Regions from separate parts of the Homo sapiens genome. Here region 2 is linked to region 1. The links come from fine-mapping of genetic effects on gene expression. A gene starts in region 1. The other region holds a variant in brackets. All regions are shown on one strand. Distances are between the middles of the regions.

Region 1 (5,389 bases):
TTCACCTAGTGAAAATTTTGAAATTTCATGTTATTAATACGAAAAGCCAAACAATGTTTCCATTAATGCAATGAAATCTGTTATCCTATGGCTAGAAATGCAAAAAGCCTGGTTTATAAGGGCAATTTTTATGTTCTAAAGAAAGAGAAGAAATATATACAAGTAGGTTTAATGCAATGAAGTTAGTAGTATAATGAAACATGTATCTACTATATGAAACTCTGAATCCACATCTTGATTTAGATTTTAACTACCCAAATCAAGAAAAATACTAAATTCAGAAAAATCCAGATTGTATTTACATTCCAGAAAAATGCTCAAGAATCAAGGTATTAAGCAACTTGATATAATCCTATAACTATGCTTGTTTAGTATCATTACATTATAGTCTAATAATTGGAGCTTTGAATATTCCAAAACAGAGAAAAATAATTAAATTCTAAATCTCCAACATGAAGATATTGCTTACAAAAAGGTACAAATATTAAAATCAGAGGAAGAAAAATATTTTTTTAAAGTTCATGAATATTTAAATTTCTAAGCTGAAAATAGATTTCAATATTAAAATTACTTCTGCACAAAATAAAATATAATCATTACCTGCTGGAAGCATCTTCCAAGGTTTTAATTCTAAATTTTATGGAAAGTAAGACTTTTCCAACCTGATTTTAAAATATGTATTTTTAAATGAGGAAGATAATTGCTTTTATTAGATTAGCCAAAGATATATAAAGCTATAATGACAGTATTGCATAAATTTATTTACATGGCAATATATAAGACATGGGGAGGGTGGAGAGTATATAAAACATTTTTATGCTATTTTATTCCGTTCTATTATACTTTTAGATTATATAATATTAAATCTGGGTAAAACAATCCCTAGAGCACAATCTGGTTTAAAATCAATTTGGTCAATGATTTTTGTAACTGATAGTTCTATAGTGCATTATAATACATTTAGAGCCCTCTGGGATTCTTTTGAATATGCTGTACAGAAATGTATATTACACAATTTTCAATTTAGATAGGGCAAAAAGTTCTATTATTAAATTTTATATATATCACTCAATATTAGAGGTGGTGATCTGCTATATAATATATACATCATTGGTAGTGTAAAATCTCTTTCTAAACGTAGTCAAAAAGGCCAAAGACCATTAACGTGTAACTCATCCCAATTCAACACTGCCTTCTGAAAGGCAGTGTTACATAAACCTCAATAGAGTAGTACAATTTTTAACCCATTTTCCTCTGGACAACCATCTCATCTATGTTTAAAAGCTGACTGTATTTTATATTTATGCTGACAACATATTTTCTTAACAGGTTAATTTATGCCCAAAGGGAGTCATTTATAATTAATAAGAATGGTTATTTGTTTAATTAACTAATGGCTTAAATAACGAACATAGCCATTTTCAAAACACCATCAATTGCTGCCCATCAGAGTATCACTTTGCTTTTTTTACAATACATGAAATTCTTAAAATTGTTTTACTTTTTACTTCTCTACCTTTTGGGTTTCTTGCTTTCAACAGAAATGAAGATCTTTTCTTGCTAAATTCTTTCTCACTGTTAGGTTGCAAGTTGGGCAACTTACCCTTAGTGAGGACAAGATGTTTTCTCATCTCCCCAACTACATCAACATCACAACAATAATAATTGGTGATAGAGTAAGAGATCCATAATCTGCAGATCTGTTTCTTGACCACCAAGGGGCAGAAATGCATTTCCACCCCCTTATTTCTCACACAGTAAAAGAGAATTTAAAAATTACCTAATCAAACTCAGTGGTAGAGGTGGTGATCCGCTAAAGAATCTCATGCACCCACAGTTCCCTTTTAAGACCTATTAATGCAAGTACTAGTATAGAATATATATATATTTAAAGCTCCAGTTTCAGATAGCAAGGTTTTTCCCTTTAGAAAATCTGTCTCTCTCTGTCTGTCTCCCTTTCTCCCTTCTTCCCTCCCTTCTCTGTCCCTCCCTTCTCTCTCTCTCTCTCTCCCCCTCTCTCTTTCTCAGTCTCTTTCCCCTTTCCCATTTCTCTGTATTCGAGTTGGAAAAGTGTTTTTTCTTGCCTTTCGCAGTCAATAAACGTTTACATTACCCAGAAAGCGCTTTACGCTACTGGCTTTTTGTGAAAACACAAGAATGTTTTAATTTGGGGGTTAAAAGTCTTTTTTTCTTTTTCGCAAACTTGAACCTACCAATCCAGCCTTCTTTCGCGCCTGCTGGAGCTCCTGGATCAAGTTCTGCAGCTCCTTTCCTTCCAGGTAACCACTTCCTGCAAAGACAAAGAGGCACCCAGGTGTCAGATATCTCATTCCAAGTGTCTTTCCCGTTCACTTTCCAAGACAGTTATCTTTCTGGCGACCCGAGAGGCTCTCTCTTGCCTGGACGTTGATTAACCAGCAAAGTGTACAGACGGTGAAGCGCTCCCCTCCTGGGGTATCAAACTTTAGATCCACTGAGGACAAAGGAGGATGGTTGGGGTGCTAAGCGCAGCCACAGAAACTTTGGGGGGGCAGCATTCCCCAATCCCTGCTCTCTCTCTCCTACCATTACCGTTCCTGGAAAGACAAAAGTTTAAGGTTTTGGGATTACGGTGGAAACAATATAAACTTTCAGGTTGACAGTTTGGCGGCCAGTCGGGGAGATAAGAAGATAAGATTAGGCAGAAGGGGGAAGAAGTAAAGAATAGAAAGGAGGGATAATGGGATCAGGAGGCTCAGAAAAGGGCAAAGAATGGGAAGGGGCATGGAAACGGGTCTTGAAACAGTTAAAAAGAGAAGATAATCACCGTCAGCGTCGAAATGGAGCCAGATCTCGAAAAACTGTGAGGCTGTGATGAGGGATGACTGCAGGTGGGATTCTGCCATTGTACAGCGGGGTGTGTGTCTGGGTGTGTGAATATGCGTGTGTCTGTGTCCGCGCGAGGGGGAGTGAGCAAAAGCTCAGCGTGTGCGCGAGTCAGGGCTGCGGAGGGAGACCTGGGCGCGGGCGCTGCCGGGCGCTGTCCTCGGTGCTGCTCAGCTCAGCGTTCCTCCAGAGTTCTCTCCCTACACCCCGCACCCAGTTCTCAGTATTTATCCCGACGGCCCCAAGCCGGGCCACGCCTCCTCCAGCCTCCCATTCCTCACTCCCCGCCTCTTGCTCTCACCAGCCTTCTTCCCCTCCCTTCCAGTTTTCTGCTCTGTTCCCAGGAAAGCTAGCTGGAGCGAGAGTTTGGGCTTGTTGGAAGCAGCAGGTGGTGGGAGATCCTTTGCTCAGAGATTGGATGCTGAAAACAGAGGCTCATTTCCCCCTACATCCTCCTAGTCCAGGAAGAATCTTATTCCTGAATATTATAGTAAAACTCTTGTTATCTAGAGAGGTTTAAATGTTCAGATAGAAGGGGAAAGCTGATGACGGGTAAAATCACATAAAAGATTATTATATTCTTGTGTGATTTCTCCAAGACTTTTCAGTATTTGTTTGAAAAAAAAAAAGCATGTGAAACCTTGGCACGCATTAGAATAATTTGATTAATGTATACAATGAGTTGATTGCTATCAATAATCACTCTATTTTGTGCCATCATGTCAATGTTTCTTAAGATGGTTTCTATGAACTAACCTTGCCAACACGAAAAAAGCTAGATTATGGATTTCTTTTCAGCATGAAGTAGAATTATAATTGGAAAGTAATACAGTTAAATTATAAAACCTTAAAATCTTAGATAAGGAAGTCATCTTACAGATACTAGAGTTTACTGCCTTTCAGTTTAGAAGGAGTGAGTAAACTAAAACAAAGAGAAAGGAAGGATCTGACCAGGTTCATAAGTAGGTACGTTAGTGCTACCACCACAGCCCCATTCAGTCGCCTTAACACACACGTCTCCTTCTTTCTGTTTCAAGCAACCCCTACTGGAGAATTTTTCAGAAATTGGAAGTCACCATCAGAGTTGGAAAAGCTATCTAACTAAATGTATGCTATGTTATGTATATATATATATATATATATATATATGTAATATATATGTATGTATACACACATATGTATATATGTTCTGTACTATATATACATATGTATATGTGTTATGTATTTTAATATAATTAATTATATACTTGGATTATTTCTTATTTACATAAGTACTTCTGGAGTATTTGGCTTTGAGTCTTTTGGACCTTGAAGTCCACTAAAAATGTATCCCAAAAGTCTAATTACAATTGTACTAAAACAAAATGAAGGAACAAGAGAAAATCTACACATAGCCAATATAAGCTTAAAGTGAATTAAAATGAATTTACCGGCCGGGCGCGGTGGCTCACGCCTGTAATCCCAGCACTTTGGAAGGCCGAGGCAGGCAGATCACAAGGTCACGAGATCGAGACCATCCTGGCCAACATGGTGAAATCCCGTCTCTACTAAAAATACAAAAATTAGCTGGGCATGGGGGTGGGCACCTGTAATCTGAACTACTTGGGAGGCTGAGGCAGGAGAATGGCTTGAACCTGGGAGGCGGAGGTTGCAGTGAGCCAAGATCACGCCACTGCACTCCAGCCTGGTGACAGAGCAAGACTCTGTCTCCAAAAAAAAAAAGAGAGAGAGAGAATTTACCAAGCTCTATATTCTTAACCTTGTGTAATTGAGTTTGGGACCCCTCAAATTTATGTTTTTGAGATTAGGGCTCTATCCATTATTATATTTGTGGAGTTTTTTTGTAAGTATCCTTTTCAGAGACCCATCAATTTGAAGCTAGCCTATTTCAATAATCTTCTTAATGGAATCCTCACTTCCATAGTACTTTCCAGTTCATACATTATTTTTACTTATGATACCTCATCTGATTCTCACTGATGGTCCTATTGGTCCTATGTTAGTGGCCAGGGTCGCTGTGTGAAAAATATAGTGTGTGAACTTGGAGACCAGCGCTAGAGAATAAACTTTGAAGAGAGAGTGAGAATGCAGTGACTAAGGAATGACTTGAAGAATCACTCTGACCCTTGCTAGTCTTGACAGAGCTAACAATGTCTAGACTTTGGATACAGTTCTGAGACAAAGAAAAATGCTAGAAAAAGTATGTAGGAATATGGACTGAACAAACTGATGAAAAAAGAGCAACATTTCTACTATTTTAAAAAGTAATTAAAATTAATTTTCTTCCTAAAAAGAGACCACACACTGTGGTAAAAATTCCTAAACATTTTCACCATAATCTGTTTGTTGGTTTTTTAGAATTTTATCTTAACTTCCAAAAGTATTACAAGACAATTTGTAAAAGTTAAAAATATTTATATGAAAGTAATCTTTTTTCTTATTCACTTTCCTGAAGCTATGGCAACTTCCAAATTTCCATTTAGAAATGTATAGGTGCTGTGACTTGAGAGAGAGTGAGAAATAA
Region 2 (5,389 bases), 240 kb after region 1:
GGTAAGGTAGCCTGGCAATATGGTTAATACATACCATCTTATCTGGCTTCCAGGCAGCATTGTTAGCCAGTGACCATAGGTTGGATTCTCATTTGTGCGGCAAGAAAAGAGTTTATTAATCCTTCCATCTGTTCCTTTCTCCTCTATGGGACTTCCTTATCACTACACCTTCACCTTCAGTTATTTATTCTGTTTTCTTTACAGCCTGTGGATCTTGCACATACTTATATCATTGGCTTCATCCTTGCAAATGGCAATTGTTTGCTATATTAAAGTACTTTCCAGGACTAGTGTAACGGTGTGGCTTTTTGCAGGATGGGGTGGGAAGATCATAAATAGATGCTCCCCAACTCTGAGGATTTTTGACCATATTTGGTTGTAACAAAATAACAAGAGTAGATAAAGTCCCCAGACATATTTTGTGGACTTTGTCTTTTCTCATCCACTGGATGTAGACTAACCTATTAGATTTGGTAATACAGGTATTTTTTTAAAAAAAAATTAGATCTTTCAGAGACTACTAGATAAAATGAAAACATGAGCTAAGTTAAATTAATGCTTTAATAACACTTTTAATTGAGAAAATGTGACTTTTAAAAATCAGTCCAGCTCATGAATTAAAGATCCTCATTAAACTATAGACCATGGAGGACTTGTAACAGCTCTACATCCAAGTTCAAGTGATGTCCTCCATCTAGAGCAAATGATGACCTCTGGATTTAATGCATACGTTATTAGCAGTTTGATCCCTTAGATTCAGTCCATGAATTTTAATCCTCTTTACAAGATGTTCAAAATGATTGGAAAAGTGGAGCTGAAGGTAAACAGGAGCAGCTGTTCACCAGAAAACCTCTCTACCTGACCCCTGCTGGGTTAACACAATGGATTCTGAGAGAACATCGTGACTCATTCCCCTCCTGGTATTTATCACAGACTCATACATTTTGCTCTTTCTTATATACTGCTTTAATCCTGTCCTGATCATGGAACATCATTATCCCCACTTGGAAACTGACTCAGAGGTCAGTGCGATGCAGCGTGGCCGTCCTATTCAGCCTTGTTTGCTTCCTCCCACTCCCTATAACTCTGGGGAAGGTTGAATGTCCTGGGAATTTGACAGAAGTGTGAGGCCTGGGCTCTAGTGATATCAGAGTTTCATATTAAAAAGAAAGGAACTGGAATATAACCTCATTGTTGGAGCGAGGAGAGATAAAGAGGAGATAAAAGATACACAAAAGAAAAGGAAGTGGCAGGTGCTGGCAGAAGGCTGAAATGGTGAGTTTCCACTGCAGAGAGAGTGTGAGGAAATATACAAATTGCTAATAGGAAACGGGATTCTCTCACCACTCCATAACACACTGGGCTGAAATGCTCAAGTGGGAAGAATGACAGCCAAGGCCAACCTGAGCTCCAGTCCTGCCCTGCTGTGCCTAGATTTCACTCATTTCCAGCCCTGGGTGCTCTTGTCTCACATATGTGAAAGTGGAGAAAACACAGGAACACTTTGTTTTCTCTGAACTGTCTGGGGAAGAAAATGCTGTACAGTAAATCAGAGAACCAAACCCTGTGTAAACTGTGAAGAAGGCTGTACTAAATCTAGAAATGGAAGGTACCCGAGGTGCTGCACTGAAACCACTGTTTCCTTACGGATTTTGACTCTTAAGTGCTTATTGTATATGAGTGAAAGTCCAAGCAAAAATACTTATTCTACTCTGAGTATGCTGTGGGCAGCAATAATTGATGTATGACAAGAACATGTCATGGTAATGTAAACCCAAGTTTGCTTAATGGTAGCATGTCTTCAGAGATGAAGCCATTGAGGTTGTCTAGCCAGATACCTGGAAGAGTCTCCTTGCTTATAATTATGAGGAGGTATGGAGTTAGGAATTTGTGTATTTGAATATTCTGCTTCAAGTTTTTTATTTAGTTGTTTCCCTACACTGGCTCAAGTGGCAGCAACATAATAGATGATGCTGAGTAAAACTCCTGGGCATATTTCTTTCTAGAAAAGACTTAAAATTGAAAGGAATAAGTGCATTTATTCACTTGCACATTAGTTCAGTGGATTCTCTCTGGGGTCCCATGGCAAGACCTGCTTTAAGTTGCAACCATCTTACAACATGGTACCTTTGCTCCATATTAATGACAACTAACACTTATTGAGTGTTAATCCTTACACATATAGTTTCCCATTTTTTAAATGACCAAACCCCATGATACAGGTACTTTAATTTCATGAGTTATTTTCATAAATCATTTCATAATTTCATAAAATCATTTCATACTTTCATAA[T/C]TTATGAAATTTCAAAAAAATTTCATAAAATCATTTCATAAATTACTTTCATTTCATAAATGAGAAAACTGAAGGAAGAGGTTCTGTAATTAGTCCAAGGTCATATACCTGGTAAGTAATAGAGATGGATATTGAAATTCAGTAGTCTGGCTCCAGAGCCTATGTGGTTTAACCACTACCCAAACTGTATCAGGAGCCTGAAAAAAAATAGGATTTGCACATGTCTTGGAGTGGAGAATGAAGGACAATAAGGTACAGTCAAGCATGCGGTGACCTTGCCTCTTCTGATGAGTGTCAGCTGTGCTTTTCCTACTGCCCTTCCTGATTAGCCTTCATTTGGGCACCATTCGCCTTCTCTTCTCTGTCCTCATGTTGCCCACTGCCTTTGTCTCATTCTAGATAGCAATACCCACAGCTGTCTTTTCTTCTCACTCTATTTCCTCCTCCTGGTTGGTATCAATTCCAGGATTAGTAATCAAAAACTAATATATTTCCAAATACATATCTCTACCTTAACTACCAAACCCATTTCTAGCTGACTTTTGTCTATCAGCACCTGACTGTTCCACAGGCTCCTGAAACTCAACATGTCTAAAAATGGCTCTACATTTTTGAGTTACATGTTGCTATGGTATAAATGTTTATATCTCCCTAAAATTCATTTGTTGAAATCTTTACCTCTCAGGTAGTGGTATTAGGAGGTGGGGACTCATGGGGTTGAAGCCCTCATAAATGGGATTGGTACTCTTATAAAAGAGGTCCAAGAGAGGCTCCTTGCCCCTATGCCATGTGAGATTAGAATGAGAAGACCACTGTCTATGAGGGAACAGGGCTTCATCAGACACCAGCTTTACCAGCACCTTGATCTTAGACTCCCCAGACTCTGGAACTGTAAGAAATGCATTTCTGTTGTTATGTCTATGGTATTTTGTTATAGCAGCTTAAATGGACCAAGACACACCTGTAGGCTTTAAATGTTTATATTTGAAAATAAACGAGAGGAAAATAAATAAATAAATAAATAAATAAATAAATAAATAAATAAAAGACTCCACAGCCTAGTGGATAGGCTCTGTTCCCGGACTTGCTTCTCTTCCTGTATTCTGAGTCTTAGTTAATGACATCATTTCTGACTTGTAATTCACAATCAGCAATTGCTACTTTGCACTCACCCAAACCCTGCCCACTTGAGATTAGGGATCATTTTTCTAATCCAGCTGTTTCTTCTACCTCTGCAGCCTTTACTTTATCTTAGGTGTGTGTCACCTGCCTTGTTTGCCTGCCCTGCCATTAGTTTTTCTCTCTTCTGTTTATTTCTTCCTCTTTATTTACAAGATTATAATTCTCCAAACTTTGACCATCTTAATGCGGTATCTAGAAATATAGATCAGCTTTCTATCATTCATAATATAAAATCCAAACTCAAGATGGCTGGCAAGCTCTTTCAAACAGAGCTCTTGTCTATCCATACCAATATAATATTTTAAAAAATAATAGTAAAATGGTTGTGGCCAACTTGCTTTACCTGCCTTCCATTTCTCACACTGAAGCAGTCTGAGAGCCAAATTTGCAGAGTCAAGATGAGAACAGTAGCTTTGAAAGTGCAAATTGAGGCTGAGAAGGAAAGATACAGCTCTTGTTTGGGACATCTTGCTTCTTACCCTCTCCGTGGTCCCTCGGTCTATCTAATTCCTTACCTCTCTACCAACCTACTCCTCCATCTACTCTCCTCTTGTATTCAGCCTCAAGGGGGTAGTATAGCCACTGATGCTAGAGGAGAGGCTTACTGGAAGAAAGAATCATCAAGACCTAAATTTAGGGTAGATTATTAAAAACAAAACAAATATAACCAAACCAAACCCAACCAAATTAAAGCAGCAGGGCACAAATGGTACATGCCTGCCTATAATCCCAGCTACTCAGGAGGCTGAGGTGGGAGAATCACTTGAGTCCAAGAGTTTGAGACCAGGCTGGGCAACATAGTGAGACCCCATCTCTACAAAAAGTAAAGATTAAACCTTTCTCACTGCCAAGATACACAGCCTGCTAGTATCTCTGATATATTTGTTATGAGTTGAAATATGTTTCTCAGAATGTGACTGTATTTGGAGATAGAGTCTTGAAAGAGGTGATTACAATAAAATAAGGTAATTAAGGTGGGCTGTAACCTAAAATCACTGGTATGTTGTAAGAAGAGGAAATCAGGATATAGACATGTAGAGATGGAAGATCACATGAAGACACAGGGAAGAGACAGCCATCTACAAGCCTCAGAAAAAAAGAAGCCTCAGAATAAGCCAACCATGCCAACACCTTGATCTTTGACTTCTAGAACAGTGAGAAAATAAGCTTCTGTTGTTTAAACCACCCAGTCTGTGGTACTTTGTTATGGTAGCCCTAGCAAACTAACACAATGCTACTATAAGAAATAATAATAGGCTGGGCGCAGTGCTCATGCCTGTAATCCCAATACTTGGGGAGGGTGAGGTGGGAGAATTGTTTGAACCCAGGGGTTTAAGACCAGCCTGGGCAATGTAGTGAGACCTCACCTCTACAGAAAAAAAAAAAAGAAAGAAAATTAAAAACTAAAACTTAGCTGGCTGTGGTGGTGCACACCTATGGTCCTGACTACTCAGGAGGCTGAGGAGAAAGGACGATGTGAGCCCAGGAGTTTGAGGCTGCAGTGAGCCGTGATCGTGCCACTGCACTCCAGCCTGGGCCACAGAGCAAGACCCTGTCTCAAAAAAAAAAAAAAAAAAAAAAGAGAGAAATAATAATAGCTAGTATGGTTTTTGAGTGTTTAGTGTGTGCCATGTTTTGTTTGATATGGTCTATGTTTTTAAACTTATTTAGTACTCACAACAACTGTAAGACAGTATTACTTTTATTTCTTGTATGTGGATGGGGAAGCTGCAGTAGAGAGGTTTAATGTTGTGTTAAATAGCTAGAAAGAACGCAAAAGTAGAAACTAGGTAATCAGAGAAGTTATGTGTAGTCTTGCCCTGAAAATATTAAATATCAACTGTTTCCACAAATCAATAAAGGAAACAAAGACAACTCAATACAAAAATAGGCAAAATACTTGAAGTTTCACAA

Which allele goes with the higher level. Positions count from the first base shown, and alleles are read on the strand shown. Sizes are in standard deviations (SD) of each study's normalised expression.
With allele C in place of T in region 2, the expression in stomach of the gene that starts at base 3,067 in region 1 is higher (moderate effect, 0.40 SD a copy in GTEx).

The links. PIP is the estimated chance that this variant, and not a neighbour inherited with it, causes the effect.
Region 2: its variant is the best candidate, but not a certain one, in a credible set for the expression of CALB1 in stomach (GTEx, PIP 0.60).

What each region holds. Positions count from the first base shown.
Region 1 is chr8:90,079,813-90,085,201 of GRCh38, forward strand. It overlaps CALB1 (calbindin 1), which reads right to left and starts at 3,067. Exons shown (of 11, transcript NM_004929.4): 1 at 2,807-3,067; 2 at 2,214-2,290. The coding sequence starts at 2,885.
Region 2 is chr8:90,323,544-90,328,932 of GRCh38, forward strand. The region is part of intron 2 of LINC00534 (long intergenic non-protein coding RNA 534); the gene reads left to right. All of the region lies in intron 6 of LOC124901975 (a long non-coding RNA gene), which reads right to left. Among named protein-coding and RNA genes, the nearest start is that of LINC00534, 100 kb to the left of the region's middle. The variant T/C (reference allele first, on the strand shown) is at 2,294.